4 linked regions of the Homo sapiens genome follow. The protein of the gene in region 4 purifies or fractionates together with the protein of the main gene of each other region. This does not show direct contact. Each region holds a gene or a part of one and is shown on either strand. Other genes may lie near its edges. The genes, in order: ZMYM6, MTO1, TRAPPC10 and CRTAC1.

What was found.
Region 1: the proteins of CRTAC1 (region 4) and ZMYM6 purify together in Homo sapiens (affinity purification with mass spectrometry; 2 studies listed by BioGRID and IntAct, with this or other methods). This does not show direct contact.
Region 2: the proteins of CRTAC1 (region 4) and MTO1 purify together in Homo sapiens (affinity purification with mass spectrometry; 2 studies listed by BioGRID and IntAct, with this or other methods). This does not show direct contact.
Region 3: the proteins of CRTAC1 (region 4) and TRAPPC10 purify together in Homo sapiens (affinity purification with mass spectrometry; 2 studies listed by BioGRID and IntAct, with this or other methods). This does not show direct contact.

What each region holds. Positions count from the first base shown.
Region 1 is NC_000001.11:34,986,386-34,994,135, reverse strand, and holds part of ZMYM6 (zinc finger MYM-type protein 6), read left to right. Parts: intron 1-1,748; coding exon 1,749-1,902; intron 1,903-5,200; coding exon 5,201-7,032; 3' UTR 7,033-7,750. UniProt on the Homo sapiens protein: Plays a role in the regulation of cell morphology and cytoskeletal organization.
Region 2 is NC_000006.12:73,471,509-73,479,258, forward strand, and holds part of MTO1 (5-taurinomethyluridine-[tRNA] synthase subunit MTO1, mitochondrial), read left to right. Parts: intron 1-1,856; coding exon 1,857-2,146; intron 2,147-7,750. UniProt on the Homo sapiens protein: Component of the GTPBP3-MTO1 complex that catalyzes the 5-taurinomethyluridine (taum(5)U) modification at the 34th wobble position (U34) of mitochondrial tRNAs (mt-tRNAs), which plays a role in mt-tRNA decoding and mitochondrial translation.
Region 3 is NC_000021.9:44,098,804-44,106,553, reverse strand, and holds the end of TRAPPC10 (trafficking protein particle complex subunit 10), read right to left. Parts: exon of another isoform or gene 7,475-7,750; intron 7,458-7,474; coding exon of another isoform or gene 7,378-7,457; exon of another isoform or gene 6,488-7,377; intron 3,777-6,487; coding exon 3,582-3,776; intron 3,262-3,581; coding exon 3,023-3,261; 3' UTR 2-3,022; downstream 1-1. UniProt on the Homo sapiens protein: Specific subunit of the TRAPP (transport protein particle) II complex, a highly conserved vesicle tethering complex that functions in late Golgi trafficking as a membrane tether.
Region 4 is NC_000010.11:98,027,481-98,035,648, forward strand, and holds the start of CRTAC1 (cartilage acidic protein 1 isoform A precursor), read right to left. Parts: upstream 3,142-8,168; 5' UTR 2,993-3,141; coding exon 2,969-2,992; intron 1-2,968.

The sequences.
Region 1 (7,750 bases), on a different chromosome or scaffold from region 4:
TTGTAGTAAACATTCAGGAAATAAATATTGAGTGAATACACATGTTTTAAGTACATTCCTCCACTCTGTTGTTTGCCCTATAACTTTGTTTTATAAAGACCTTTGTTTACAGAAGTTTTTTTTTTTTTTGGATTAAAAAACTTTACTTTTTGGCCGGGCACGGTGGCTTACGCCTGTAGTCCCAGCACTTTGGGAGGCCAAGGTGGGTGGATCACGAGGTCAGGAGATTGAGACCATCCTGGCTAACACGGTGAAATCCCATCTCTACTAAAAATGCAAAAAAAATTAGCCGGGCGTGGTGGCGGGTGCTTGTAGTCCCAGCTACTCAGGAGGCTGAGGCAGGAGAATGGCATGAATCCAGGAGGCAGAGGTTGCAGTGAGCTGAGATCATGCCACTGCATTCCAGCCTGGGTGACAGAGCGAGACTCCGTCTCAAAAAAAAAAAAATTAATTTACTTTTTAAGAGCTTTATTATGATAGGCAGAATAGTAGCCCCCCAAAGATGTCCATGTCCTTGTCCACAGAATCTGTGAATATGTTACATTACATGGCAAAGGTGAATTAAGGTAGCAAGTGGCATTAGGGTTCCTAATCAGCTAACCTTAAAATAGGGAGATTATCCTGGATCATCTGAGCAGTTTTAAATTTTGAGGTAGTCAAATGTATCAGTCTTTTCTACTTTGATTTACTCTTTTGTGTTTTATTTAAGAATACTTTGTGATCCCAGCTGGGAGTGGTGGCTCACGCCTGTAATCCCAGCACTTTGGGAGGCCGAGGTGGGCGGATCACGAGGTCAGGAGTTTGAGACCAGCCTGGCCAACATGGTGAAACACCATCTCTACTAAAAATATAAAAAATTAGCCAGGCGTGGTGGCGCACGCCTGTGGTCCCAGCTACTCAGGAGGCTGAGGCACAAGAACTGCTTGAACCTGGGAGGCGAAGGTTGCAGTGAGCTGAGATTGTGTCACTGTACTCCAGCCTGAGTGACAGAGTGAGACTCCGTCTCAAAAAAAAAAAAAAGAAAAAAGAAAAGAATACTTTGTGATCTGTTTATTTGAAAGTTCTCTAGTGACTTTAGTTCTTTTTTTTTCCCTGAGATCTTTAATTGATGTGGAATATATTTTTGTGTATGGTCTGAGGTTGGATCTAATTTTTCTGAGTAGCCAGTTGTCCTAATCAGCAAGATTAACAATTGTTTTCATTGTTTTGATCATACTTATTTTAAAAATATATATTATATGTATAATTTTTATATTTATAGTTTATAAATATATTTTTATATTTATAGTTTATAAGTATATTTTTATATTTATAGTTTATAAGTATATTTTTATATTTATAGTTTATAAGTATATTTTTATATTTATAGTTTATAAGTATATTTTTATATTTATAGTTTATAAGTATATTTTTATTTTTATAGTTTATAAGTATATTTTTATTTTTATATTTACAAATATATTTTTATATTTATAGTTTATAAATATATTTTTATATTTATAGTTTATAAATATATTTTTATATTTATATTTATAAATGTTTTTTAAAATCAGTAAATTAAACTAATACTGATTGGGAGAAGTAGGAATCTGTGTGTATTTTCCAAGGTGACTTTTTTATTGCAACCACTCTTTCAGAGGAATTATATTTCTCTTGATGTATATGAACTTTCAATTGATAGCAATTATAGTCAGTGATAAGGTACTAAAAAAAATCTTTCTTTGGTTTCTGAATTTGCTTTTAACTAGGAAAGTACACAGGAAGATGCTATGAAATTTCCATCTTCCCAATCTTCCCAGCCTTCCAGGCTTTTAAAGAACAAAGGCATATCATGCAAACCCGTCACACAGACCAAGGCCACTTCTTGCAAACCACATACACAGCACAAAGAATGTCAGACAGGTATGTATCCTTGTGCGTTCCCATGTACAAAGCTTGTTTTCTGGCTTGTTTGTTTTTGTTTTTTAAGAAAGGAAAAGAAAATAATTGACAGAGTCTTAAATGTGAAAACATTCCTTTTCTTGGATCACATGCTTTGAATACTTAATTTATTGCTTTCATAATTATTAACACTAATAACCAGCTATCATAACAAGCTATTATAATTACTAACATACAGTTTTAGTTAAAAGCATTAGTGATTTAACCTGTTTTTTTTTTTAAATACTGCGAATTCAGTTGTCAGTTGCTAACAGTACAATTAATTTATCTGAGGTATTGGTGACGATGAAAATTGTTTGAGCTTTACTTGAAAAAGTTGTGAAGTATTACTTTTAATCCCACTACCCTTAGATTTTCAATTGCTTTAATAGTCTACTGTGCCTAAAGCACTGGGTTTTTTTTTGTTTGTTTGTTTGTTTTTTTTGAGATGGAGTTTCACTCTTGTTGCCCAGGCTGGAGTGCAATAGCGTGATCTTGGCTCCCTATAACCTCTGCCTCCTGGGTTCAAGCGATTCTCCTGTCTCAGCCTCCTGAGCAGCTGGGATTACAGGTGCCTGCCACCATGCCCGGCTAATTTTTGTATTTTTAGTAGAGACGGGGTTTCATCACTTTGACCAGGCTGGTTTTGAACTCCTGACCTCAGGTGATCTGCCTGCCTCGGCCTCCCAAAGTGCTGGGATTACAGGCATGAGCCACCGCCCCTGGCCTGATTTTTGTTTTTAATAATAATTTTACTTCATAGAATACACTATATTTAAAAGCTTAGTCTGTCAACAAGTAGTAAGTTTTTATGTAGGGTACCTTTATTTTGGTAGAAGTCAAGCAGAATCCTGTTTTCCTTCCTCAGGAAATTTATTTTATATTCCTATTAAAACAATATATTATTTGTACCTGAATTTATATTATATACACGTTCACACATGGAGAGTACTAAAGGATCTGTGGGCATCTATATGTGTGTATGTGTGTGTGTATGTTTGTGTGTGTGTGTGTGCTTATGTTTTGAGTTCTAGATTAAATATTGAATTGTTGGTCAGACGTGGTGGCTCATGCCTATAATCCCAGCACTTTGGCAAGCCAACATGGGCGGATCACCTGAGGTCAGGAGTTTGAGACCAGCCTGACCAACATGGTGAAACCCCATCTCTACTAAAAATACAAAATTAGCTGGGCATGGTGGCACAGGACTGTAATCCCAGCCACTCAGGAGGCTGAGGAAGGAGAATCGCTTGAACCTGGGAGGTAGAGGTTGCGGTGAGCTGAGATCGCGCCATTGTGCTCCAACCTGGGCAACAAGAGTGAAACTCCGTCTCTTTTAAAAGAATAAATCTCGAATGTTTTCTAACAATCGAAATTACTTTTTCATTTGACATTGCATTGGAAACATTATTCCACAACAATATAAATTTAAATATACATTGAGATTATTTTTTTCCAATTTTTATTTTATTATGTTTATTTTATTTTATTCGGGGGTACATGTGCAGATTTGTTACCTGGGTATGAGATTCTTAACATAGATTTCAGTGTATATAATATAACCAACTCCGTTAAGATTGGAAATTTAGATATTTGTATTATAAGCAATGTTGGGTTAAGCTATGTTAATGGATCTTTGTCCACTTGCCTAATTATGTCCTTAGGATAAATCCTAATCAGTGGAAGTGTTGATTCAAAGACTATCATCTTTTTTTTTGTTTGTTTTTGTTTTTGAGACAGAGTCTATCTCTGTCACCCAGGCTAGAGTGTAGTGGCGCGATCTCGGCTCACTGCAACCTCCACCTGCCAGGTTCAAGCGATTCTCCTACCTCAGCCTCCTGAGTAGCTGGGATTACAGGCACCTGCCACCATGCCCAGCTAATTTTCTTTTGTATTTTTAGTAGAGACGGGATTTCACAGTGTTGGCAACGCTGGTCTCAAACTCGTGACCTCATGATGTGCCCGCCTCAGCCTCCCAAAGTGCTGGGATTACAAGCGTGAGCCACCGCGCCGGCCTATCATCTATTCTTAAGTATTTTGATACCTGTTGCCTAAATTGCCCTCCTGAAAAGTTACATCAATGTATGCTCCAACCAGCAGTGTTCAGGAGGATCCATTTCTCTACAACCTCACTGACACTGAGTATCAAAATTCAGAAAGGTTGAATATACAGTACAGTCAATACTAGTATACTCTTCATCCAGATTAATGAAATGTTAACTTTTTGCAATATTTATTTTCTTTTTTTTTCTGGATTGTTTGAAAGTAAAACATTATTTTTCTGTCTCTTTTTCTTCCTTTTCTTTCTTTTTTTTGAGATGGAGTTTCACTCTTGTCTCCCAGGCCGGAGTGCAATGACATGATCTCGGCACATTGCAACCTCCGCCTCCCGGGTTCAAGCGATTCTCCTGCCTCAGCCTCTCAAGTAGCTGAGATTATAGGCATGTACCACCATGCCTGGCTAATTTTGTGTTTTTAGTAGAGACGGGGTTTCACCACGTTGGCCTGGCTGGTCTCGAACTCCTGACCTCAGGTGATCTGCCCGCCTTGGCCTCCCAAAGTGCTGGGATTACAGGTGTGAGCCCCATGCCTGGCCTTTTTTTTCTTTTTCTTTAAAAAAATTTTTTGACACCAGTGTCACTCACCAATAAAAAATTTATTCTTTTTGTTTTTTTTTGAGACGTAGTCTCAAGAGTGCAGTGGTGTGATCATGGCTCTCTGCAGGCTCAACCTCCTGGGCTCAGGCAATCCTCTTGCTTTAGCTACCCAAGTAGCTGGGACTATAGGTGTGTGCCATTGCATCCAGCCAATTTTTTTTCTTCTTCTTTTTTTTTTTTTAATGTAGAGATGGAGTTTCGCCATGTTGCCCGGGCTGGTCTCTAACTCCAGGGCTCAAGTGACCCACCCACCTTGGTGTCCCAAAGCACTGGGATTATAGGTGTGAGCCACCCTGCTCAGCCAAAAAGTTTATTGTTAATTTGATGTGTATCATGGTCTTCAGCCCTAATTTCAATAACCTATTGGGTGCTTGGGATTACTTGTACATGTACCACATCCTACAGTTTTATTATACCTAGTGATCAAGCTTTGGGCAAAGGAGAAATTCAGTTTTCAGTAGCATCATTGGAAGTATTATGACTTGTGCTTAAACTTTTACCAGTGCATTCTTTTGATAAATAGAAATAGTAACAAAATATGAATTTTAAATATGTGGGGAGATACATAAAGAACATTGCTTATTTGTTCTTGAAAATAACAGTGATTCAAATATTTCATTCAGATTTACCTATGCCTAATGAAAAAAATGATGCAGAACTTGATTCTCCACCTTCAAAGAAAAAAAGATTAGGTTTTTTCCAGACTTATGATACAGAATATTTAAAAGTTGGTTTTATTATCTGTCCTGGATCAAAAGAAAGTTCACCAAGGCCACAGTGTGTCATTTGTGGAGAGATCTTATCCAGTGAAAACATGAAGCCAGCAAATCTTTCTCATCATTTGAAGACAAAACATTCAGAATTAGAAAACAAACCAGTAGATTTTTTTGAACAAAAATCTTTAGAAATGGAATGTCAAAATAGTTCTTTAAAAAAGTGTTTACTAGTTGAAAAGTCACTTGTGAAAGCTTCTTATTTAATTGCTTTCCAAACTGCTGCAAGCAAGAAGCCATTCTCCATTGCTGAAGAATTAATTAAACCATATTTAGTAGAAATGTGTTCAGAAGTTTTGGGTTCAAGTGCTGGAGACAAAATGAAAACTATTCCACTTTCTAATGTTACAATTCAACACAGGATTGATGAACTATCTGCAGACATTGAAGACCAGCTGATTCAAAAGGTCAGAGAGTCAAAGTGGTTTGCCCTTCAGATAGATGAGTCATCAGAAATCTCAAATATCACACTTCTTTTGTGCTATATTCGTTTCATTGATTATGATTGTCGTGATGTAAAAGAAGAATTATTATTTTGCATTGAAATGCCTACTCAAATAACTGGCTTTGAAATATTTGAACTAATAAATAAATATATTGATAGTAAATCTCTGAATTGGAAACATTGTGTTGGTCTCTGTACCGATGGGGCTGCAAGCATGACTGGCAGGTATTCTGGTTTAAAAGCAAAAATTCAAGAAGTTGCCATGAATACAGCGGCATTTACACATTGTTTTATTCACCGTGAACGTTTAGTGGCAGAAAAGTTGTCTCCATGTTTACATAAAATTCTTTTGCAGTCAGCACAAATTTTAAGTTTTATAAAGAGCAATGCATTAAATTCACGTATGTTAACAATTTTGTGTGAAGAGATGGGATCTGAGCATGTGAGTTTACCGCTTCATGCTGAAGTACGTTGGATATCAAGAGGGAGAATGTTAAAAAGATTATTTGAATTACGACATGAGATTGAAATATTTTTAAGTCAAAAGCATTCAGATTTGGCCAAGTATTTTCATGATGAGGAATGGGTTGGAAAGCTGGCCTACTTATCAGATATATTTTCACTTATAAATGAATTAAATTTAAGTCTCCAAGGAACTTTGACTACTTTCTTCAATTTGTGTAATAAAATTGATGTATTTAAGAGAAAGTTAAAAATGTGGTTGAAGCGCACACAAGAGAATGATTATGACATGTTCCCTTCATTTTCTGAATTCTCAAATTCATCAGGCTTAAATATGACAGACATCACAAGGATTATTTTTGAGCACCTGGAAGGACTTTCTCAAGTGTTCAGTGACTGTTTTCCACCAGAACAAGACTTGCGTTCAGGAAATTTGTGGATAATTCACCCTTTTATGAATCACCAAAATAATAATCTCACCGACTTCGAAGAAGAAAAGCTAACAGAGCTATCTTCAGATTTAGGATTACAAGCACTATTTAAATCAGTGTCTGTAACTCAGTTTTGGATAAATGCAAAGACAAGTTACCCAGAACTCCATGAAAGGGCAATGAAATTTTTATTACCCTTTTCAACTGTTTATTTATGTGATGCTGCCTTTTCAGCTTTGACTGAGTCAAAACAAAAAAATCTGTTGGGTTCTGGCCCTGCCCTAAGACTTGCAGTCACATCTTTAATTCCAAGGATAGAAAAATTAGTGAAGGAGAAAGAGTAGCAATATGCACATTGCTTAACAGTGAAGTCAATAATCCTGTGTTAAGTTTTGTATAAGTATCCTAAAAGATAATTTCCTAATGTGGATTTGTGTTTTCAGTGATTAAATGTTTTAATAATTTTTCCCTTTTTGTTGAGGAATTTAATAATTATGATTGTTATAAATAATTATGTATAATTATAATCTAGGGTAGAAAATTTAGTTATTTCATTAAATTTGGACTAGTGACAAAGACTGCAGGTAATGAGAAGCCCAGTTTATAATGTAACAGCACAACCTGGATGTTGAAACAGCTTGGCCTTTAGAAGCAAGTGGAACATTTCAGTCTTCTAGCCAACCAGCTACTTACCCCTGCAAGGTTGTGAGTAGGTGGAAAAGATAGATCTTTTTTTTGAGATGGAGTTTTGCTCTTGTTGCCCAGGCTGGAGTGCAATGGCGTGATCTTGGCTCACTGGAACCTCTGCCTCCTAGGTTCAAACAATTCTCCTGCCTCAGCCTTCCAAGTAGCTGGGGTTACAGGCATGTGCCACCATGCCCGTCTATTGTATTTTTTTTAGTAGAGACGGGGTTTCACCATATTGGTCAGGCTGGTCTCTATCTCCTGACCTCAAGTGATCCACCTGCCTCGGCCTCCCAAAGTGCTGGGATTACAAGTGTGAGCCAACGTGCCCAGCTGGAAAAAGATAGATCTAAGCAGCTTGGGTAACTATAAATGGAA
Region 2 (7,750 bases), on a different chromosome or scaffold from region 4:
GACCCAAGTGATCTTCCTGCCTCAGCCTCCTGTGTAGCTGGGACCACAGGCATGTGTCACCACCCCTGGCTAATTTATTATTTTTTTTTGTAGAGATGGGGGTCTCACTATGTTGCCAGGACTGGTCTTGAACCCCAGGGCTCCAGTGATCTTCCTGCCCCAGTCTCTCAAAGTGTTCATATTATAGTCATGAGCCACTGAGCCTGGCCGATTTAATTTAATATCTTTAAATGCTATTTTGTGATCCTGTCCATATTTTATAGGCCCAACAATAACAATTTTTTTGTGGTAAAATATACAAACCATAAAATGTACCATTTTAACCATTTTTAAGTGTACAATTCAGTGCTATTAAGTACATTGACAGTGTTGTGCACCCATCACCACCAACGGTCTCTTGAACTTTTTCATCATCCCAAATTAAAATTCTGTACCCATTAAACAAAAAGTCCCCATTACCTGAAGAATAAACCTCCATTTTACTGTAAGGTAGAGCTATCTGAGGACAAAACCTTAATGTGTAAATTTCAGCTGTTTCTTTCATTTTCTGTTCCAAGTTTCATTTCTACATTCCTCCTCAGTTCTTATTCTCAGTTCTCTAATTTCTGAGCCTTTGCAGGGCAAATTAGTTCATTCTCATTGATATATCTTCTCTTCAGATATTAATACTTAAGTTATAGCTATCTCCCCTCTGCTAGATGAGTTACCATTCTTCCAAACACTTTCTATCTTTCAAAAATACATTGAAATTTCTCATCTTCTGACTGGTTCTTTTTCATTACTTGTCCTTTTGGTTTTATACCTTTTTTATTCCCCTATTTAATTTTCTTTGAGTTTTAGAAGGGAGAAGAAATGAGAGGTTGTATGCCATATTTATCCTGAAGTCTAAAATTAATTAATTTTTTAAATTAATTGAGACTAACTTTTTAGTGCTGATATGATTTTAGGTACATGTGAATTGGTGATAACACATTGTATTCTCTCTCCTAGATTGCTTAGATTGAGATTGATAACATATTAGCCTTCTTACTCATTTAAAATTCTTTGTCTGGGGTAGGGGAAATGGGAAGATACTGCTCAAAGGTTATACATTTTCAGCTGTAAGTTGAATAAGTTCTAGCAATCTAGTGAGCAGTATGGTAACTGCAGTTAATAATAATGTATGATATACTTGAAATTTGCTAAGGGAGTAGATCATAAGTGTTCTCACCACACAAAACGTGTAACTATGTGAGGTGATGGTTATATTAATTAGCTTGATTATGGGTATCATCACAGAAGGTATACTTGTATCAAAACACCATGTTGCATACTCTAAATATATACAGTTTTTTATATGTCTGTTATATGTCGATAAGTCTTGAAAAAACAAAAATATTAAAAAAGATTCTCAAGTTTTTAAAGACTGATAGTTTTTCTGTAGTTGTAATGTAAAATAGTCACATTCCATTTTGATCCATGGTAACAATTTAAAAAATGACTTTAGGCCGGGCGCGGTGGCTCACGCCTGTAAGTAATCCCAGCGCTTTGGGAGGCAGAGGTGGGTGGATCACCTGAGGTCGGGAATTCGAGACCAGCCTGACCAACATGGAGAAACCCCATCTCTACTAAAAATATAAAACTAGCTGAGCGTGGTGGCGCATGCCTGTAATCTCAGCTACTCGGGAGGCTGAGGCAGGAGAATTGCTTGAACCCGGGAGGCGGAGGTTGCAGTGAGCGGACATTGCACCACTGCCCTCCAGCCTGGCGATAGAGTGAGACTTCATCTCAGATAGATAGATAGATAGATAGATACATAGATACATAAATACATAGATACATAGATAATGACTTTATTCTTTTTTCTTGTTATTTAGTGGATGGAAGCACAGTATATGCAGAGAGTGTGATTCTGACTACTGGGACATTTCTGAGAGGCATGATTGTAATTGGATTGGAGACGCATCCAGCAGGACGTTTAGGGGATCAGCCTTCTATAGGATTGGCTCAGACACTGGAGAAGTTAGGGTTTGTGGTGGGAAGGTTGAAGACTGGGACTCCACCCCGAATTGCCAAAGAGTCCATTAATTTCAGTATTCTAAACAAGCATATACCGGACAATCCATCCATACCATTCAGCTTTACCAATGAGACAGTATGGATTAAGGTAAGATACTTTACGAAAACCTGGCTTACAGCTGGTATTGGCTATTCACAGCAGGAAGTACTGTAACTTTTTTTTTTTTTTTTTGGCAGCAGTTCACTTTATAGCACTATTGCTTATAGTGCAAAGAAATGATTTTTTTTTTTTTTTTTTGAGATAAGGTCTCACCTTGTCACCCAGGCTGGAGTGCAGTGGTACAATTATGGGTCACTACAGCCTTGACCTCCTGGGCTCAAGTGATCCTCCCACCTCAACCCCCTTGAGTAGCTGAGACCATAGGCATGAGCCATTGTGCCTGGCTTTTTAAAATTTTTTTGAGAAATGGGGTTTCACTATGTTGCCCAGGCTGGTCTCGAACTCCTGGGCTCAAAGGATCCACCCCCCTTGGCCTCCCAAAGTGCTGGGATTGCAGGTGTAAACCACCGAACCCAGCCAAAGAAGTTATCCTTTTTTTTTTTTGTGGTGGAGACTTGCTCTGTCACCCAGACTGGAGAGCAGTGGCACGATCTCAGCTCACTGCAACGTCTGCCTCCTGGGTTCAAGCAGTTCTTCTGCCTCAGCCTCCCGAGTATACAGGCACGCGCCACCACACCCGGCTAATTTTTATATTTTTAATAGAGACAGTGTTTCACCATATTGGCCAGGCTGGTCTCGAACTCCTGACCTCGTGATCCACCCATTTCAGCCTCTCAAAGTGCTGGGATTATAGGCGTCAGCCACTGCACTCAGCCTAAAGAAGTAATCTCTAAAAGGGATTAGCTAACTTGGCTAATTGGGTATTTCCCCATAAATCGTAAATTTCTTTTTTTTGTTTTTTTGAGACAGTCTCAGTCTGTCGCCCTGCTGGAGCGCAATGGTGAAATCTTGGTGCACTGCAACTTCCGCATCCTGGGTTCAAGCGATTCTCCCACCTCAGCCTCCCTAGTAGCTGGGATTGCAAGCACCCGCCATCATGCCTGGCTAATTTTTATAGTTTTGTAGAGACGGGGTTTCACCATGTTGGCCAGGCTGGTTTTGAACTCCTGACCTTAGGTGATCCGCCTGCCTCAACCTCCCAAAGTGCTGGTGCTGGGATTACAGATGTGAGCCACTGCACCCGACTTTTTTTTTTTTCTTTTTTTGAGACGGAGTTTCGCCATTGTTGCCCAGGCTGGAGTGCAATGGCGCAATCTCGGCTTACTGCAACCTCCGCCTCCCAGGTTCAAGCAATTCTCCTGCCTCAGCCTCCTGAGTAGCTGGGATTACAGGCTCCTGCCGCCACACTGGCTAATTTTTGTATTTTTAATAGAGACGGTGTTTTGCCATGTTGGCCGGGCTGGTTTCAAACTCCTTACCTTAGGTAATCCACCCTCCTCAGCCTCCCAAAGTGCTAGCATTACAGGCGTGAGCCACCGTGCCTGGCAAATCTTAAATTTCATTACTTTTATAACCTTACATATTTTGTAAATTAAGCTTTTATTTTAAAAAATTTTTTCATTTATTATTATTTTTAATAGAGACAGGGTCTCGCCATATTGCCCAGGCTGGTCTCGTACTCCTGAGCTCAAGCCATCCGCCCACCTCAGCCTCTCAAAGTGCTGGGATTACAGGCATGAGCGACCGCACCTGGTCAAATAGGCGTTTTTTGTTTTGTTTTGTTTTGCTTTTTGAGATGGAGATTCAGTCTTGTTGCCCAACCTGTGGTGCAATGGCACGATCTCAGCTCACTGCAGCCTCCGCCCCCTGGGTTCAAGCAATTCTCCTGCCTCAGCCTCCCTAGTAGCTGGGATTACAGGTGCCCGCCGCCATGCCCAGCTAATTTGTTTTTGCATTTTTAGTAGAGACAGGGTTTCACCATGTTGATCAGGCTGGTCTTGAACTCTTTTTTTTTTTTTTTCTTTGAGATGGCATTTCACTCTTGTTGCCCAGGCTGGAACGCAACAGCACAATCTCGGCTCACTGCAACATCCACCTCACGGGTTCGAGCAATTCTCCCGCCTCAGTCTCTTAAGTAGCTGGGATTACAGGCATGTGCCACCACACCTGGCTAATTTTGTATTTTTAGTAGATGGGGTTTCTCCATGTTGGTCAGGCTGGTCACGAGCTCCCGACCTCAGGTGATCCGCCCGCCTCGGCCTCCCAAAGTGTTGGGATTACAGGTGTGAGCCATCGCACCCAACTGGTCTCAAACTCTTGACCTCAGGTGATCCACCTTCAGCCTCCCAAAATGCTGGGATTACAGGCGTAAGCCACCATGCCCGGCCTAAATTAAGCTTTTGAAACGATATCAGGTGGTGCTGCTGGAAAGGCAGCCGCCCCCTTGCCCATTACACAATGCATTTTTATGGAGAACCCGACACTGAACCATTCTTAGATGACCTGCTTCTGGGGTGGGATTTCAGACATAGCAGAGCAACTTCCTCGCTGCGATCTATTGAAAGTTAACCCTCAGCTGGGCGTGGTGGCTCATGCCTGTAATCCCAACAGTTTGGGAGGCTGAGGCAGGTGGATCACTTGAGGTCAGGAGTTCAAGACCAGTCTGGCCAACATGGTGAAACTCCATCCCTACTAAAAATAAAAAAAAAATAAAAAAATTAGCCAGGCATGGTGGCTCATGCCTGTAATCCCAGCTACTCGGGAGGCTGAGGCAGGAAAATTGCTCGAACCTGGGAGGCAGAGGTTGCAGTTAGCTGTGATTGTGCCACTGCACTCCAGCCTCCAGCCTGGGCAACAGCAAGACTCCATCTCAAAAAAAAAAAAAAAAAAAGAAAGTTAACCCTCAACGCATATAATTTTATTTTAAAAAGACGGAGAAAAACAAAAAAAAGTAAGCAACATCGAGAAAAAGTTGTAAGACTTTTCTCAATGTAAGAGTTTTTTCACAACAAACTCCTATAAACCATTGAACGTCACTCACTGTTAATATTTTACCATATTTATCGCTATAGATATATCAATTTATGTCCATATTTACTGTGTAAGATGGTAATATACACATTTATTCTTATTCTTTTTTTTCTGGAATATTTGGGAGTAAATTGCAGAGATGATGAGCTCTTACCTTAAGCCTATATCTCAACTAAGCACAGAGACATCCTTTTATATAACCCTTATGCAATGATGAAATTCAGAGTACGATGCAGGGACAATAAAATTTAAATTTTTTTTTTTTTTTTGAGACGGAGCCTCACACTATCCCCCAGGCTGGAGTGCAGTGGTGCAATCTCGGCTTACTGCAATCTCGCCTTCTGAGTTCAGTCAGTTCTCATGCCTCAGCCTCCTCAGTAGCCGGGATTACAGGCACCCGCCAACACGCCTGACTAATTTTTGTAGTTTTAGTGGAGACAGGGTTTCACCATGTTGGGCAGGCTGGTTTTGAACTGCTGTTCTTAAATGATCTGCCCGCCTTGGCCTCCCAAGTGTTAGGATTACAGGCATGAGCCACTGCGCCTGACCAAAAAATTTTTTTAAAGACAGAAAAGAGTCCAGGCGCAGTGGCTCATGCCTATAATCCTAGCACTTTGGGAGGCCAAGGCAGGTGGATCACTTGAGGTCAGGAGTTCAAGACCAGCTTGGCCAATATGGTGAAACCTCACCTCTACTAAAAATACAAAAATTAGCTGGGCATGGTGGCATGCGCCTGTAATCCCAGCTACTCAGGAGGCTGAGGCATGAGAATCGCTTGAACCAGGGATGGGGAGGTTGCAGTGAGCTGAGATTGTGCCACTGCACTGCAGCCTGGGCAACAGCAAGACTATGTCTCAAAAAAAAAAAAAAAAAAAAAAGAAATTCGGAGAATTTAACACTGATACAGTGCTATTATCTAACATAAAGTCCGTAGTCACATTTTGCTAATTGGTAAATATTGTCCAAAGCAGCTTTTTTTTTTTTTTTGAGATAGGATCTCACTGTGTTGCCCAGGCTGGAGTGCAGTGGTGCAATCTCAGCTCACTGTAACCTCCGCCTCCCAGGCTTGGATGATCCTTTTACCTCAGCCTCCCAAGTAGCTGCGACCACAGGTGCTCACCACCATGGCTGGCTACTTTTTGTATTTTTTGTAGAGATGAGTTTTTGCAGTGTCACCCAGGCTGGTCTCAAACTCATGGACTGAAGGGATCTGCCTGCCTTGGGCCCCAAAAGTGCTGGGATTACAAGTATGAGCCACCAAGCCTAGCCCAAAACAACCTTTTTATTCCCAATCAAGGGTCATGCATTGCGTTTAATTGTCATTTCTCTTTAAAGTCTTTTATCTGGAACAGTTTGTCAATCTTTAATGGTGCCGACATTTTTGAAGTGTAGAGGCCACTTTTACCTATCTCTCGAGTTTTAAAAAAATGTGGCGTGGCATGGTGGCTCACACCTGTAATCCCAGCACTTTGGGAGGCCAAGGCAGGTGGATCACAAGGTCAAAAGATTGAGACCATCCTGGCCAACATGGTGAAACCCCGTCTCTACTAAAAATACAAAAATTAGCTGGGCATGGTGGCATGCCCCTGTAGTCCCAGCTACTTGGGAGGCTGAGGCAGAATTGCTTGAACCCGGGAGGCAGAGGTTGCAGTGAGCAGAGATGATGCCACTGCACTTCAGCCTGGCGACAGAGCAAGACTCTGTCTCAAAAAAAAAAAAAAAAGTATATTGTATGTGTTTAAGATTGAGGATGAAGAATTGGCCAGGCACAGTGACTCTCACCTGTAATACCAGCACTTTGGGAGGCCAAGGTAGGAGGATCACTTAAGCCTAGGAGTTCAAGACCAGCCTGGGCAACATAATGAGACCCTGCCTGTACAAAAAAAAAATAATTGATGGTCCTAGTTTCTGGTGAGTGTTATCCTGATGTATGGCTTCAAATATTCTGTTACTTTGAGCAAGATACTTTTATATATTTGCTTTGGTAGTATGCAAATTATGATAACCCTTTCTTCTTTTTTGAGACAGAGTCTTGCCCAGGCTAGAGTGCAATGGTAATGGCGCAAGCTTGGCCCACTGCAACCTCCACCCCCTGGGTTCAAGCGATTCTCCTGCCTGAGCCTCCCAAGTAGCTGGGATTACAGGCACCTGCCACCATGCCTGGCTAATTTTTTGGATTTTTTTAGTAGAGACAGAGTTTTACCATGTTGACCAGGCTGTTCTCAAACTCCTGACCTCAGGTGATCCACACACCTTGGCCTCCCAAAGTGCTGGGATTACAGGCGTGAGCCACGGCGCCCAGCCCAAACAAAGCAAGGAGTCCCTGGGTGGGCACAAAAACACTTTTTTTTTTTCTTTTTTTTTTTTTTGAGACGGAATCTCGCCCTGTCATCCAGGCTGGAGTGCAATGGTGCAATCTCGGCTCACTGCAACCTCCGCCTCCCAGGTTCAAGTGATTCTCATGCCTCAGCCTCCCGAGTAGCTGGGATTACAGGCACCCGCCACCATGCCCAGCTAATTTTTGTCTTTTTAGTAGAGACAGGATTTCACCATGTTGGCCAGGCTGGTCTCAAACTTCTGACCTCGTGCTCCACCTGCCTTGGCCTCCCAAAGTGTTGATATTACAGGTGTGAGCCACTTGCACTTGGCAATAACTTTTTTAAAAAAGTAACCATGGCCAGGCACGGTGGCTCACACCTGTAATCCCAGCACTTTGGGAGG
Region 3 (7,750 bases), on a different chromosome or scaffold from region 4:
GTTTCTTCTTAAAATGTGTATTTTCAGAATTACAATGCTTACATTTTAAAGTCTTAATACAATGGTTTTAATCTAACAATATATTACATAATATGAAAAATGACTTTTCATAGTAAACCATGAAAATGGAATACCTGCAGTGTCAAAGTCACCAACTTGTCACCTTTTCCAGTCACAGAATCCCAACACATTGTATTAATGATGACTGGGGGGGGTCTTACAGCCTGATGTATATAGGATGAATAAATGTAGAGAAAGGAGCATTTTCATGAAAAATAAAATTTAAAAACCAGGTAGGATTTATTTTAAAGAACACAGTTGAAAGTAAAACATTTACATCAGCCCAGTTTGCCCTTTTGTAAAAAGTAGTATAGCTTTTCATTTTATATACAAACCTGCAGTGTCTGATTTCATTTTAAAACTTAATTTTAAGCACTAAAGAAAATTTGAATAGAAGCCTGTGTGTATTTTCTCTGCTAATTCTGTATGGGATATCTGGCATCTCCACTAAGAGTAATTAATACAGGATCTGACCTTCCTAGGCTGTGCTGACAATGGAACTGTTGTAGGTAAAGTCATTTTCAGATTAAATACAACAATTTCCACATTAGAATCAGAAGAGTTATAATTTTTCCAATCATAGGACATCCCATGAAATTCACAAAAATTATAACTTATTTTATTTTCCATTTGACAGTATTTACATGTTCCACAGATATTTGTAAAACGGCTGCAAATTCCTTGCTTTTCAGATACACATTGCATATCTGGCTTCACAATTATTTAACATCTCTTTATCAACAAAACCAGCTTGTCTCAAACACATACACCTTACTTTAGATAAAAACAATAAACATCCAATTACAGTTACTCTTTTAGGACTTTTATGATGAACATTAAGAAAAAAATGACAATTTTGGGTGACATTCTTCTTTGTCTTAAAGAGGCAGAAGCATTCATGTAACATAGTTTGCAAAAGATCTTTTGGGTAATTAGGGGGAAAAAAACTGATAAATTTGATTTCATTTCATTTCCAGGCAATTAAGCGCCGTAAACATTTTAAATTTCCCCTTCACTTTCTTCCTCTAAATATATATGTAGTTGGATAATTTCATCCTGGGAGTAGAACCAGATACAAGAAAATCAAACAGTAATAAATGAAACATTCCCTCTTCCAGAAGGTAAGAGAGAAAGCTACATTACACTGGGGAAGGCTCCCAGGCTGACGACACGGATTACAGTCTCTTCTGACGGAATCAAATCTCCCATCTCTTTATTCACAGGACTTGGTAGAAATGCAGGGCAATCGTCAATTTTTACAATAAAAAACCTTATTTTAGAAACCCTAAACTATCATTAGATTCTGAAGTTCTAATTTGCTAACTAGTTTGACCAAGTTTGTTAAACTGCACATGAGGAAGATAAATTTCTGGAAAGTTTAATTACACAATTATTTATCTTCTTTACACGTCTCCAGTTTCTACAAATGAAAAAGACAGGAGGAAAAAAAAATCACACCACCTTTATTTATTGAATGAGCTAAAAGACAACACAGAGAATACTGGAAATGACGGCTGTCATATTTCCCCGGTCTGTGCCTCCTTCCTCCCATGCCCCACCGCCTCCCGCAAGCACAGTGCTGGGCAGGAACCCGGTGCTCCTTCTCTCCACAACTTGCACATCCACGGGGATTCACACGAGGGCCACCCACTGCTGGACCCGACTCTATCTGCTTGAGCTAATCTTGTCAAGTTCAATTCCAAGCACATTTGCCCAGTAAATTAAGAGTACTCTATTTCAAGTGTACAAAAATACATCGCTTTGGAGAACTGGAAAAGGTTTAATACATACAACACTTATTTACAAGCTGTGACTTTCACACCTGTAAAAACAAACACACTTATTTTTGTCCTTGATTTTTGGTGCAACTTATACATAAACATTACATCAGTTAGTCTGTATTTTTAAAAATAATAAATCAACCATATGTACAATTAAATTTACAACCGAAAGCAAATAATCCATTGGAACAGTGTGACTGCAACTCAGTAGACCAGTGGAGGACATTCCAGGACTTGAGTCCTTCCCTACAACCAGACCAAAAACACACTGAGGACCTCTCTCATCCTCACGATGGAATATCTTAATTTCTAAGACTTAAGATGCAAAAGAAAAATAACGATTATACAGCTACAATTACATGTAAAGACTTTAAAGGGACAGAAAAACAACATATTAACCCCCACATATATAATGATCATTAAATTAAATATATTTAACTCCCAGTGCATATGATATTCTATCAACATTATGGGGGACCACAGGGTTCCAGAAACATTTATCCCTAAACCACCTCACCGCTGAGGCGCTCCTCACAGCCGGGTCTCAGCTTTCTTCAGTACCTTTCACGTGGCTCCGGCTGATGGGCCTCCAGGTCCCCCAGCTCCGGCATCCCAAGGCACAGAAGGGGTTATGATCCCTCCCTCCCCCACCCGCCTCCCCTAGAAGGGTGTTATTCTAGAAAAGCACAATGAGAGGATCTGCGGTAAACGGCTGTTTTACCCCTTAGGGGACACAAATCCACCCCGATCAGGAAACTGGGCAGCTGTGTGACCAGAAAGGCACACACGTCACTAAGACCGTGAGGGCTGCTGAGTGTCTACCTGAAAGACAAATGGCCTTCCACGAAGAGCCAGCAGACGGAGGCTGTTCCGTGGAGACAGCGTGGGTGGAAACTTTCATGAGCAGCGTGTGAGGTAGGGGGAGGGAGGCCAGGGCTCTGAGTAAGCGGCGTCGGACACCAGCATGGGGACGGGGTGAGAAAAGCAGGAATCTGAGATCACAGGCGGCATGAAAACAACAACAGAACTCAGCTGGCCAGCTGCGTGATGACACTCTCTGATGTCCCCACGGCCAGGCAGGACCACTGAAGGTCTGGCTGGAGCCAGAACGGAAGAGTCCAGTCACAGTCCCATAAAGTGCACTCCTAGCTGGGAAGTGGCGTGTGTTCACCCTGGCGTTGTCATGTTACACTGACTTCCAGGACGTGGTCATCTTGGCTGGGGATGACCAGGACTTGTGTGCCCGAGCTGGAGTTGAAGACCTGGCCGGCCGGCAGTGCCTGCAGCCGGGGCATGGGTAGGCCTTTGTGCTCGCTGCTGCAGGCCGAATGCACGCTGCCCCTGCTCTTGAGGCTGCTGCTGTCCGGCTGGTCGTCCCCGTGCTTGTCTACTGACAGGCTGTCGTTTTCTATCCAGCTGTCTGCAAAACACACAGGAAGTTAGACCCAAGCTGCGCCGACACTCACCTGGGGACGGGCAAAGCCACACGGAGCCAGGCTGAACGTGCAGAATGCCACCCGAGGCTGCCCCTTTACAGAGCACTCTGTGCACAGAGGCTTGGCTTTCAGAGCAGGTGCCTAAGATTCTAACAGCGGATGAGGCTTCTAGTACCAGTTTCTACCGGCACTGAAAACACGCCGCTAGTTCTCCAACCTGCTCAGTCATAAGTTTATCACCTCTCGCACAAAGTGCTCACCTGCTCAAATACTGAAGGTAAACTTTTTCTTCCAAAGTCCTTACCAGCGTCCAGTTGGGAGGAGTGTGCAGAATGATGGGGGAGGTACTTGAACAGCCTGACGTCGGGCAGGGGGAGATACCCGGCGAAGAGCGGCATCACTTCCATGTGGACCCTGTGAGTGGCCCGAGCAGCCACTGGCATGGAGATGACACCGCAGCTTTTCCCACACACTGCCCAGTTGCTACTGTTGTCGACAACTGAAACGAGAGGAAGCGATGTGTCATCCAGGACGGGCCTTCCAGTACTCAGGCGAGAGTCACGGCCGTCGTTACCCAATCCTCTCACCCAACGCTGTCTGACAAAACACTGCGGACACAGAGCCCAGTGCCTTGTAGCTGCGCCTGAAGATAAAGCCATGCACTTTCACGGTGGCAACCCCTATTTCATTGAGTCCAATTTCAATTAGTTCTGGATTAGAATGAATTATGCTGGACGTGTACAGAAAACTGCATTTTTCCTGTGAGGTTAATAAATGATTTAATTTTGTTTTCAAATTTTTGTGTCATCTTCCACAGTATGGTGACTTTGGCAGTTAATGGGTTCTGTCTGGTAAGTGGCAGTATCCAAGACCACTGGGTCTGAAGCCAACTCTGCCACTCAGAAGAGCACCCCAAGGCCTCCAGGCTCAATGACCGCTGTATAGTGCTGAGACCACCACCAGCCTCACAGAGCTGCTTTTTAAGGATGGAAAGAGAATACGTATGAGGGAACTACAAAAAGTTCATGCAAAAATGGAATCCAAAGATGAAAACAGAAAATATAAGCTTTATTTCTCAACATAAGCCCCACCAAGGTCAAGACATGTTTGTAAGCAATGATGCCATTGCTTACGATGCCATTTAGTCCATCCCTGAAGAACTGGGAGGCCTGAGAATTTAGCCATGTCAACGCAGTCTTTCTCTACATTATTAGCTGAATAAAAATGGGTGCCTTTTAAAGACTTCTTAAGATCAGGAAACCAAAATCAGTCAGAAGGAGCCGAATCAGGTCCACAAGGTGGATGCCTCATGATTTCCCATAGAAACCCTCACGAAGTTGGGCTTGTTAGAGGAATGAGCAGGAGCTTTGTCGTGGTGGAGGAGGACTCTCTGGTGAAGCTTCCCCAGGGGTTTTTCTACCAAAGCTCTTGCTATCTTCCTCAAAACAATCTCATAATACACAGACGCTGCTGTCCTTTGACTCTCCAGAAAGTCAACAAGCAAAATGCCTTGAGTATCCCAAAAACCTGTTGCTGTGGCCTCTGCTCTTGACCAGTCTGCTTCTGCTTTGGTGGGGCCACCCCACCTCTTGGTAGCCATTGCCGTGTCTGCTTTGTCTTCAGGATGGTACTGGGAAGGCCACACTGCATCTCCTGTTATGGTTCTTTGAGTAAATGCTTCAGGATCTTGATCCCGTGTGTTTGAAGTTTCCATGGGAAGCTCTGCTCTGGTCGGCCACGGACCTGGGTACTAGGGTTTTGGCACCCACTGAGTGGAACGCTTGCTCACCCTTCAGGCGTAATTGCATAAGCTGAACCAGTTCAGATGTCTGCGGTGTTGGCTGTCATTTCTGCTGTTGTCAGTTCCCTCCAATTAGGGCATGAACAAGGTGAATTTTTTCCTTGAAAATGGATGTGGATGGTCTGCTTGCTATGGCCTTAATCTTCAGCATCATCTCGTCCCTTCTTAAAACAAGATATCCATTTGCAAACTACTAATTCTTTGGGGCACTGTCCAAAGAATTTCATAAACTTTTCATAAAGCATCAATGATTTCACCATTCTTCCACCCAAGCTTCACCATAAATTTGATGTTGGTTGTTTTGTTGTTGTTGTTGTTGTTGAGGCGGAGTTTTGCTCGTTGCCCAGGCTGGAGTGCAGTGGCGCAATTTTGGCTCACTGCAACCTCCGCCTCCTGGGTTCAGGCAATTCTCCTGCCTCAGCCTCCCAAGTAGCTGGGCTTATAGGCGCCTGCCACCACGCCCAGCTAATTTTTGTATTCTTAGTAGAGATGGGGTTTCGCCATATTAGCCAGGCTGATCTTGAACTCCTGACCTCAGGTGATCCGCCTGCCTCAGCCCCCCAAAGTGCTGGGATTACAGGCGTGAGCCACTGCACCCGGCCAATGTTGGTTCTTGATTTAATTTTAGCAGAATTCATGTTGCTCTGATAGGGGCTCTTTTAAAACTGATGTCTTATCCTTCTTAGTGCCTCAAACTAGATCCTGCTCAGTGAGTAGGAGCTTATTTTGGTGCAAAAAGTGTTGAAATCCATGCATAGTTTTTTCATAACGTATCTTCCATGATTTTTTTGAAGACCCCTTGTATGTAAAGCACTTAGTACCACTCCTGGGACATGGTAGTGTCTTAATATATGGCAGGTGTTATTATTAACATTAATTATTAAAACACAACCATCATGTAATTCAATGCAATTCAAACACTTAAGTGATCATTCACTGGGACTAGCCCTGGAGATATGAAAGTAAGCAAGACAGGATCCTTGCCATCCAGTAGCAGTAGACCTGGTAAAGAGGTCACAGCTTCCCATCATGAGGATACCGAGCAACCGCCCAGGGGGAGTGAGTGACCAGAAGGCCACGAGCAGCAGAGAAGGGCTCAGGGAGGTGGACATCCTGTAGTTGGGGATGGGGGACCTTTGAGGACAGGAGCTACTACAGGACATGCAGAGGCCCTAGGAGTGTCAGGAGGAAGGCAAAGGAGTGACAGTTCTCAGAGTGTGGCTCTCAGGGCACCCGCAAGCTCATAGCTTTCACACTGCTGCCTTTCTACGCTGCTGACCTCGCGCTGCTGGGGCAACCACAATGGCATGAACTCGGGCCAGACTGCGCAGTCATGTCACTCATGTTCTTTACTACCATGAACTCACAGCAAAAAAACAAAAAAAAAAATGCCACGCTTCACAAAGCAGTCAAAAGTGCTCATTTTATTAAATTCAGCTCCTGAGTAGACTTTTTTTTAATTGTGAAATGTTTATAGACTCACAAGAAGTTGTAAAAGTAGTAGAGGGGTCACATACCTTCATCACCAGCTTCACCCAACTGTGCCATCTCGTGTAACACAGGAAGCTGACACTGGTACCATACAGTGACCCAGGCTGCAGACCCCACTGGATTTCACTACAGAGTGAACCAGGCTGCAGACCCCACTGGATTTCAATACAGATAGAACCAGGCTGCAGACCCCACTGGATTTCACTACAGAGTGGACCAGGCTGCAGACCCCACTGGATTTCAATACAGCTAGAACCAGGCTGCAGACCCCACTGGATTTCACTACAGAGTGGACCAGGCTGCAGACCCCACTGGATTTCAATACAGATAGAACCAGGCTGCAGACCACACTGGATTTCACTACAGAGTGGACCAGGCTGCAGACCCCACTGGATTTCAATACAGATAGAACCAGGCTGCAGACCCCACTGGATTTCACTACAGAGTGAACCAGGCTGCAGACCCCACTGGATTTCAGCAGCTTTCGCAGGCATTCTTTGGGTCTAATTCTATGGCATTTGTCACATGTGTAGATTCGTGTAACAACCACAGCGGCCCTGGCCCAGAACTCTCCATTACCACAGAGGACGGCCTCCTGCTGCCTCCCACTGCTCCGTGGAACACTGACCCGCTCTCCTTCTGAGGCTGGCATTTTGAGGATGTCATTTAGAAATGGAATCACACAGTACACCTCCTTATAGGACTGGCGTTTTTCTCTTAGTATAATGCCCTTGAGATCCAACCACAGCACTGCGTGTGTCAACAGTCCCTTCTGTTTCACTGCTGAGGAGGAATCAGATGTGCCAGTTTAACCGCTCTCGAGCTGAAGGACGTTTGAGTTATTTCCATTCTTGAGTGCTTGTGTTCTTGACATTCTCTGGGTCTCTGCTGCAGAATGACAGCTGGCTCAGGGAAAGCACACGGGGAGCGCTCGGTGCTGCGAGCTGAAATAGCCGCTGTTTTCACAGAACGCCCTTTTCACTTGCAAGAGCGCTGGGGAAGCTAGTTATTCAGTGTTGGGTATTTGGTAGACGTCTGATTAAAAATGAATGATGTAAGCCTGTCACTTCAAAGAAAACAACACGACTATTTGCTGCCAATGATGCCATCTGAGACTTTAAGCAAAAATCAGAATTTTGGAAAACTTACACTTGCCACTGTGAGCTTGAAAGAGTTCTGAT
Region 4 (8,168 bases):
AGACCCCACGCCAACATTCCTTGGCGCTCCAGACCTGGGTTCCAAGACCACAGTGAGGGACTCGGCACTTCTGACTCCTAAATGCACAGACTGAAACCTGGACTTGCATGGCTTTTGCTTAAAACACCACTTGGAATAATGAGACGAGATTGTAGAGGCAGGGAAAGAATAATTAGGAATTTCTATGACCTGTGTATGTCCATGACAAGAACTGTATTTTCTCCTCACCTCCTCACTCTGAAAAACAGATTCAAAATAGAATCTCCCCAACTGTATGGGATGTATTAATTTACCAAAGCCTGGTCAGTCAATAACTATGAGTGCCTACTGTATAGAGAAAGTATGTCCATCTTTATAGTGAAGAGGAAGCAGGCCGCTGGAGTGGAAACAGCTCTGAATCGAGCAGTGGGAATCCTAGGGCCTAGTTCCATGTCTTCCACCAAATAGCCATGTGACCTTGGCTTTATCCAGCTTCAGTTTTCTCATCTGTAAATTAAATGTGCATGTGAGTGTTGGGATGGAATGGGGTTGGATGAGATGCTCTCCAAGGCTCCTTGCTTCTGGCTCTAATGTTCTGGAACTCCATGAACCCTTAAAGAGTTCAAAGAACACAGCGGCACCAAGCACAAAGGAATGATCCCCGAGAGAGGGTGGGGCTGTGTACCAGCTCTGTCTCCTTGGAATGTTGTGCTTGCACCTGCCCCATAGCACCCGAGGTCACAGGACCACCTGAAGCCCAGGAAGCATGTGGTAGAAGGATTCCAAGTACGATGGTGGTGGTTGAAGGCTGTAGCCTGAGCTGCCTTAAAGCATTAAGTTGCTACAGCCAGTAAAGGGCAAGAAGTGAGAAAGTCAGTGGTCCTGAGCCAGGTACCTTTGGCGCCCCCTACTGGACACCAAGGAGTCTGCTCCACCTTTAGGCTTCCACCGCCTCAGCACGGAAGCAAGGGAGCGCTTGAGCATGAGAGGCTGTCACAAGCTGTTTAGTAGGACTGCCTTCCCGGTTGGTGGTATTCTTTCTATAGAAGTCTATTGCACTCCCTAGAATTACACAGGCCATTGGTCCACAGATTTACAGGGGCACCCCTGCGCAGCCATAGGACGTCTTAACCAAACATCAAGGTACCAAGGAATAAACACCAGGGTTCAGAACACCAGGTGCAGCCCAGATGGAGAAGGGAAGAAAGAGCAACAAGCAGGTATTTCGCTGCACAAATCCCCAGTGGAGAGAAGGTCTTGGGAAATGCAGCAGAAAAATGTTGACTGCAGCAGACAACGATGGAGCTGGGGGTTGGGATATAGATTGATAGCACCCATAAAATATCTCCAGGCTGAAGCAGGTACCCTAGGAGTTTGAACATCCACCTACATTCAGGGATGGGATAAGGTGGAGGATTCAGGCTCAAATGAGCAGCCACAGAGCAGGTTCCCCAGACTCCCTACACACCGTTTCGACCTTTTCCAGAGTCCATTAGTACCCACCGGAAATGGAAATGTTCTAATTGTGGTCCTCTGTGCCATCATCAAGACCCTCAACTCCCTTCATTACCTCTTAAATTGACTTTAGGACCTACTGCCAGAAGGATGTTCTTAACCAAGTCAGAGAGAGAGAGAGAACATTTTCTCAAGAACCATGCTGGAACAGCCACCATGTTCCCACTTTTCCAGCCTCCACCTCTCCCCCATGGCTGAGGGTGAGGTACTCTGTGACTCTCAATGAGCTCTAATTCAGTCTTGGACATCTCCAGCCCCAAGTCGTCTGGGTTCCAAATCTCCGTCAATCGCTTATCTCTTCCCACATGAGTTCTCCCCTGACTCAAGAAAACACTATAGAACTGTCCCCTGTCCTGGGACCCTCTTCCCTTCTTTTCCACTTGGCTTCACGTGGAAAGTCCTGCACCCATCCCAGAAGACACCTCAAGTGCAACTCAAGAATGTGTCCTGTCAGGAGAACGGAAGCATCTCCTGGGATGTGCAGAAGCCACACTGGGTGCACCCACCAGCAGCAGCAGCGGCGGCGGCGGCGGCGGCGGCGGCGGCGGCGGCGGCAGCAGCAGCAATATTCATTAGTCATTCCTGGAGGAAGCCCCCCCAGCTCTCAACCCTAGGAGAATTTCCCCGCCACTCTGGGAGGCTTCCATCCAGGCTGGGATGACTTTGGATTCTTGAGTTGCTTTCTGCAGAAGCGGGACTAACCAGGGCTCCCAACTACTGTACTGCAAAGAAGCGCGCTGCATTGCTGGGCATGCCCCCAAGCCCGGCCTGGCTGCCCCATCAAAGCCTCCAAGTGCCCCCACGGGGTCGAGGAGGACTCAGGGTTCCCCTGGAATGCCTGAAGCCGGCTTGCCTCAGGCAGCCTGAAGGGAAGACCACACCTCGTCCAGCATAAGGCGGCTAGCAGCTACGCCGCGCGCGGGGCTGGCTCCCGGAGCTCTCTGCCACCCAGCGCTGTGCCCGGGAACTCGGCTTCCCAGGGGAGGAAGAGCCAGCCCGCGGGGCTCTTCCCCAGCCTGGAAGCGTAGGCACTCGGCCGAGGCCAGTGGCTTCCCAGGCCCGGGTCTCAGCCTGGCTGACTGGGAGACTCTCCCGATAGCCCGGCACATCCCTCCTCACCCGCTCCGCCCCCTCCAGGCCCCAGAGGCCCCCTCCCCTGACAGCTGACCTCCAGTGCGCCCCCAACACTTTCTCTGCCAGCTGCTGGCTGTCGCCCCCACACATCAGCTCCCACCTCTCCGCCACCTCCAACCCGGCCGCCGCCTCACCCCCAGCCCGCGGGGGAGGCTCCGCGCGCCAATCGAGTCCAGCGCCTCCCAGCAAGTTAGGAGCGAAGCCGCCGCCTTCGCGATCCCAGTCTTCCCGGGTTCCCGGGCGGCGTCCCCGCCACCCTTGCGGGCGGATCCGGGGGGGCGCGCAGAGCTGGAGAAACTTTCTCCGCCTTAGGGTGGGGGGCACCGGTGCAGATACTCACGCCGGGGTCAGCGCTCGGAGCCATCCTCCCGCTCTCGGCCCCGCCGCCTAGGGGCGTGGGAAGCGGGCGCTCGCTGCCGCCTCTGCCGCCGGCGCCGCCGCCTGCTTGCTCCCAGCCCCGGTCCCGGGCTGGCCTCGAGCCTCCCGCCCCGACGCCGCGCGCTCGCTTTATACAACTCCACTCGAGCGCGCCCGGTCTTATGTAAAGGCTGGCGGAGGCCCGCAGCCAATGGCGCGGCAGCTGGAGCCGGGGGCCCGGGGTGGGGGGCGCCGGCGCGGCCAATCGCGGCCCCGAGAGCCCGGAGAGCCGGGCGTGGGGAGGGAGCGCCTCCCCGCGCTGATTTAGGAGCCGGGATTGCGGTGGCAGCAGCCGGCAGCCAGGCTGGCCCGGCGCGGCGCGGCGGCCACTGGGGTGGGCGGCGGCGAAGGCGGCGGCGAGGGCGGGCGCCCCCCGCGCCCCGCCACTGCGTCGCGTAACCTTCAGGCGGCAGCGAGGCCTGGCGAGGAGGGGAGAGGGCGCCTGGCTGGGCGCTGGGGGCCCCAGGCCGGAGGGAAGCGAGGGTCCCTCGGGAGGCAGCGCAGGGAAGGAACGCGAAGGGGGAGGGGAGGGCGGCGAGCCCCAGGACCCCGCGGCCACCCCTGCGCGCAGGACCGAGGGTGGAGGCGGGAGCGGCTGCACTGCCTTCCCATTTCCCCCCAGGATAGCGATCTGGCGTCGCCGGGCCGGGCCAAAGCGGCCGAGCGAGCCGCGCTGATGGCGAGATTTCGACTACGGAGCTAGAGCCGAGCCGATCTTTATCCAGCCTGGGGACGTGTCCGAGCACCTCCCGGGGACTGCTCAGTATGGAGAGCAGGGCTCCGCGACGGCCCCCGCAGGCGGGGAGCGGGCGAGCGCAGCTCGGAGATCAGGCGCGCAGAGGCCCAGGCGGCTGCGGGCAGCGCCGCTTCTACCCCACCCCGTCCCCACCAGCAGTGCCCCCACCCCATCCCACCTAGTCCCTACCCCAGCAGTGGCCGAGTCGGGCCTGGCCCACCCGCTCCTGCCGCCTGCGTCCTACTAGCCTCCCTCACCGCTTTGATCACAGGTACTGCCCGCCTCTCCTCGCCCCCAACCCGCTGCCTTGGTGGTGGTGGGGGGATGGTTTCTGCCTCTCTGGACCAGGGGAATGGGGGTGCTAAGCGCCAGAAAAACACACTTGATCAGCAATGCTCAAAATACCCCTGTTCAGGCAGGAAACTGGCCTTGGTGGGTCACACTCTGAAGGCAAATCCTTTATTTTACGCCTAGAATAGAGCCTGGCACATAGTAGGCGCTCAGTGTTTATTGAATGAATTCTGAGCTTCCATGAGTGAGGTCTTTGGGTTTCTGAAAGCCAGGTAAAGGGGCCACAGAAGAGAAAGACTTGGGAATCCACCATCGGAGAGGGAAGGAGCTAGGACTGTTTTCCCATCCGTTGACGCTTTTGTGACCATCACCCACTAGTCTGGCTTCTGGGCCCTTGACTCTTAGAATGATTTGAATGTGTTCTTTTATAGAGGGCCACACATCCAGCCTCTGGCCCCTGTTATCCACAGATTTTGAGCAGAACTACCAGGACCTAGTCTGGGCTCTGTTTTCAGGTCTCTGTGATCTTCCTCTGAAAAGAAATAGCTAGGCACAGACAAACTTTCTGGCTTTTTGAGCCCCCATCAAGCCTGTAAGGTTGTGGGCCCCTTTGAAAATCTGGCAAAAATTACTGAATCATTTTTCTAGAAAAATATACAAACACACACATTTACACACACACACACACACACACACACACACACACACACACACACCTTGAGTATACTTTCAGGATCATTAGGAACCCTGAGTCTCTTGGGGCTCGGTCCAATGTCAACCTGTTTCTTCAGGGGTCTAGGACAGTAGTTTATAATCACCCTCCTTTTGGGGATCACAGACCCTTTAGAACCTTTCAAGAATCTCATAAATGTTATGGATCTGTTGCTTATAAAAATGCTCACTCACATACACACATGTTGACATGCAACTTTAGGAGGGTTCGTGGATCATTAAAACTTAATCTAGGGCCCTGATTAAGAACCTTCATCTATCGGCAAATAGACTCTGCCCCCAAGGCCATATCTGATCCCCAGCTCTCTGCATAAGGAGTCCAGTTGGCTCTGCACCCTGCTGGAACATGCCACCACCTTGTTCTGAGGGCATCTGAGTCATCTGGCCAAGGCTCTGGCACCTGAGAGACTGTCTCCACACTTTCTCTGCATCTTGGTCCCCGCCACCCTCTTAATGTGGAAATAAGTTGCAGGTTGTCATATTATGTCTGATCTATGAGCATTCCTTAGCCAGAAACTCCAACTCAGGGAGACAGCAAGTGACTGGTAATTAACCAGTTTCACTCAATCCCAAACATCTGAGCACACCTTTCTTGGTTTTTGTTCTCACCTCTCTCTTCTCCGGTGAAGCTGTGCACAGCAGCCCCAGCTGTAGCGCCTCACCTCACCCAGACCCGACAGATTTAGTAACCAGCACGGTAATTATCAGCATTAGCCAACCAGATGTGAATAGGTGCTCTGTGCAAAATAACTCTGTAATAATCTCACACTTTCCTGCAGCTAGCCAGGTAAGGTTACAACAGACCAAAGGTGCTAGGGAAGGACAGAAAAATGCAGGAAATGATGGAGATGTTCCAGCCAGGAAGTGCTCCAGGGAATACAATCTGGCTTCAGCACTTGAACTTGTGAGGGTTTAGCCCAGTGGGCCAGGCAGTCCTGGTTGGAAAATTTCTCATTTCTCTGATGTCCTCGATGTCCATTTGCTCAGTTCATGTCAGTGTCTGCTCAGAGCTCCAGCCCTTCCCCACCCCCAATCCCGTGAGAGACCTCTTGTCCTCCCACATTGCCCAAACACAGCTTTCTTGAGGCACATGCACACGGTTATAGACTGAATTGTGCCTCTCCGGACCAAATTCACATAGTGAAGCCCTAACCCTTAGTGTGACTGCATTTGGAGATAAGGCCTTTAAAGGGGCAATTAAGGCAAAATGAGATCATAAGGGTGGACCCTAATTCAATAGGACTAGTGTCCTCGTAAGAAGAGAGAGAGATACCAGAGATCTCCCATTTCTCTCTGTGCATCCTCAGGAGAAAGCCTGCCTGAGTAACAGGAGGAGGCCATCTGCAAGCCAGGAGCAGGGCCTCTGCAGAAACCAGACCTGCCAGCACCTTGATCTGGGACTTCCAGGCTCCAGAACTGTGAGAACATTAACTTCTGTGGTTAAGCTCCACGTCTGTGGTATTGGCTATGGCAGTCTGAGCTGACTAATACACACATTTTCAGCACACCCTTACCCCATGCATCTTGTTCAGGCTCCAGTCCTTTGACCCCAGTGAAGTTGTTTTTTCTTCAGAGTGTTCCCCCACAGACTTCTTCATTCTTACCTGGGGAACGTGCTTAAATTGTTTTCTCATCTGTTCATACCCAAACCAAGTCTTCCTTCCTGCGCCACCTTCCAAAACTGCCCTGGCCAGCAGTTTTCAGCTCTCCTGCAGGTCTACACCATCTTATCACCTGTGATGCACATTAGCTTTTTTTCACTCAGTGATACTTGGCCTCCCTATCAGAATATGAGCCCCTTGAAGTCCAGAGTTTGTACCTTGCAGTTGACTACCTCACAGAACCCAGCATGAAACTGGGCACAGAGTGAACACACATTAGATATTTGCTGAGTTATTCCAATTAAACCTATTTACTTAAAAATACTATTAAAGCTGTACAGTACTTCATTTTCTAAAAACTCAAGATGTATTGTGTGTGTTAGTCATCATCAACATCACTGGAGCAGGAGTTCTCAGGAGCTAGTTTTCTTCTAAAGTCCAGGATCAGAGAGGTTGGACTTTACGCAAGTTGCTAACAGTCATGCAACAAGTTAAGGACAGGACAAAAACTGTAGGAAACACTGAAGACAACCTCCAGACCCCATGTCCTTTCATTGACAAATGACTTTGTTAATTCTCTCTCTACATTAGAAGATTACTTGGCTATCTTCTCTCTCTCCGGGTGAGAAGTCAAGACACCAGATCTTAGAGATGCTTCTGTCCCAAGAGTTCTGTCACAGGAGAACAGAGAGGCTGGTACAGTTCCTCACACCCTTATCTGAAGCCCTTGAGGCCAGAGGCATTTTAGAATTCAGAAAGGCACCATACATAAACATTCTCAGTGAAGCTTTGAGCAGCATATTGAAATCAGACACATTAATATTTCTGCAATGAAATATATGAAGTTTACACTAAGCAGGTGTGAGGATAAAGTAACTTCACATCAGTTTAGGTCAGATTTTGCTACCAGATGAGTCTTGGCATCAAACTTGCAAAACAAAAATCCTTTTGACTTTCAGAGATTTGGGGATTTGGAATTGTAGATAAGGGATTGTGTATTTTAGGCTTGGTTGTCTCAAAAGAAATGAATCTTTTTGTAAGGGGGTGGAAAAACAGCAATAGTTGAAAATGGGAAACCACAAACTGTGAAAGAAATGAGGAGCTAAAGGGGGTATGAGGAAATAACCCCTTCTCAAACCAAGTCGTATGGAGGGGTCGTCCCTTTTTCCCAAGGAGTACACATTTATCACATGGCCGTTGGGTTTCAGATGCACTTGTGGCTTGTAAGAGGCAGATGCATAGGATGGACTTTCAAGGGGAGGTAGGTTAGGGGTAAAGTTGGACAGGAACTCTTTTAGAGAAGCCACAAACCCTGGGGGATGGTTCAGTCAGGGCCAGAGCCAGAGCCATCACAGATGCAGAAAGGAGTCTTCCAGATGGCCAGAGAGTTTGTTCAGAAGACCTTGAGCTGTGAGCGCATGCTGCAGGGAAACTCTGCAGGCAGAGCAGCCCCAGGAAAGGGATGCTGGAAGAAGGAGGACATGATGGAATCCTGGGGAAGTCTGGTTAGAAACTTTCGAGGCTGTGGGGCAGGGGGAAGCCTGGAGGTAACGATGCAAGCAGGTGTCTGCTTATCATGTTAACCTGTGCCAAAATGGCTTGGGTTCCAGGAACTTACCTGCCTATGTGTCCAGTGAGCTACGGGGTTTTCCCACACTGTCGTGGGGGTGGCTCTGCAATCTGAGGGGCTGGTTAAGAATGTGATGCAGGGAGGGAGATGGGAAAAGGAAAGCCATGGTGGGCCGCTGACCACACAGCTCTCT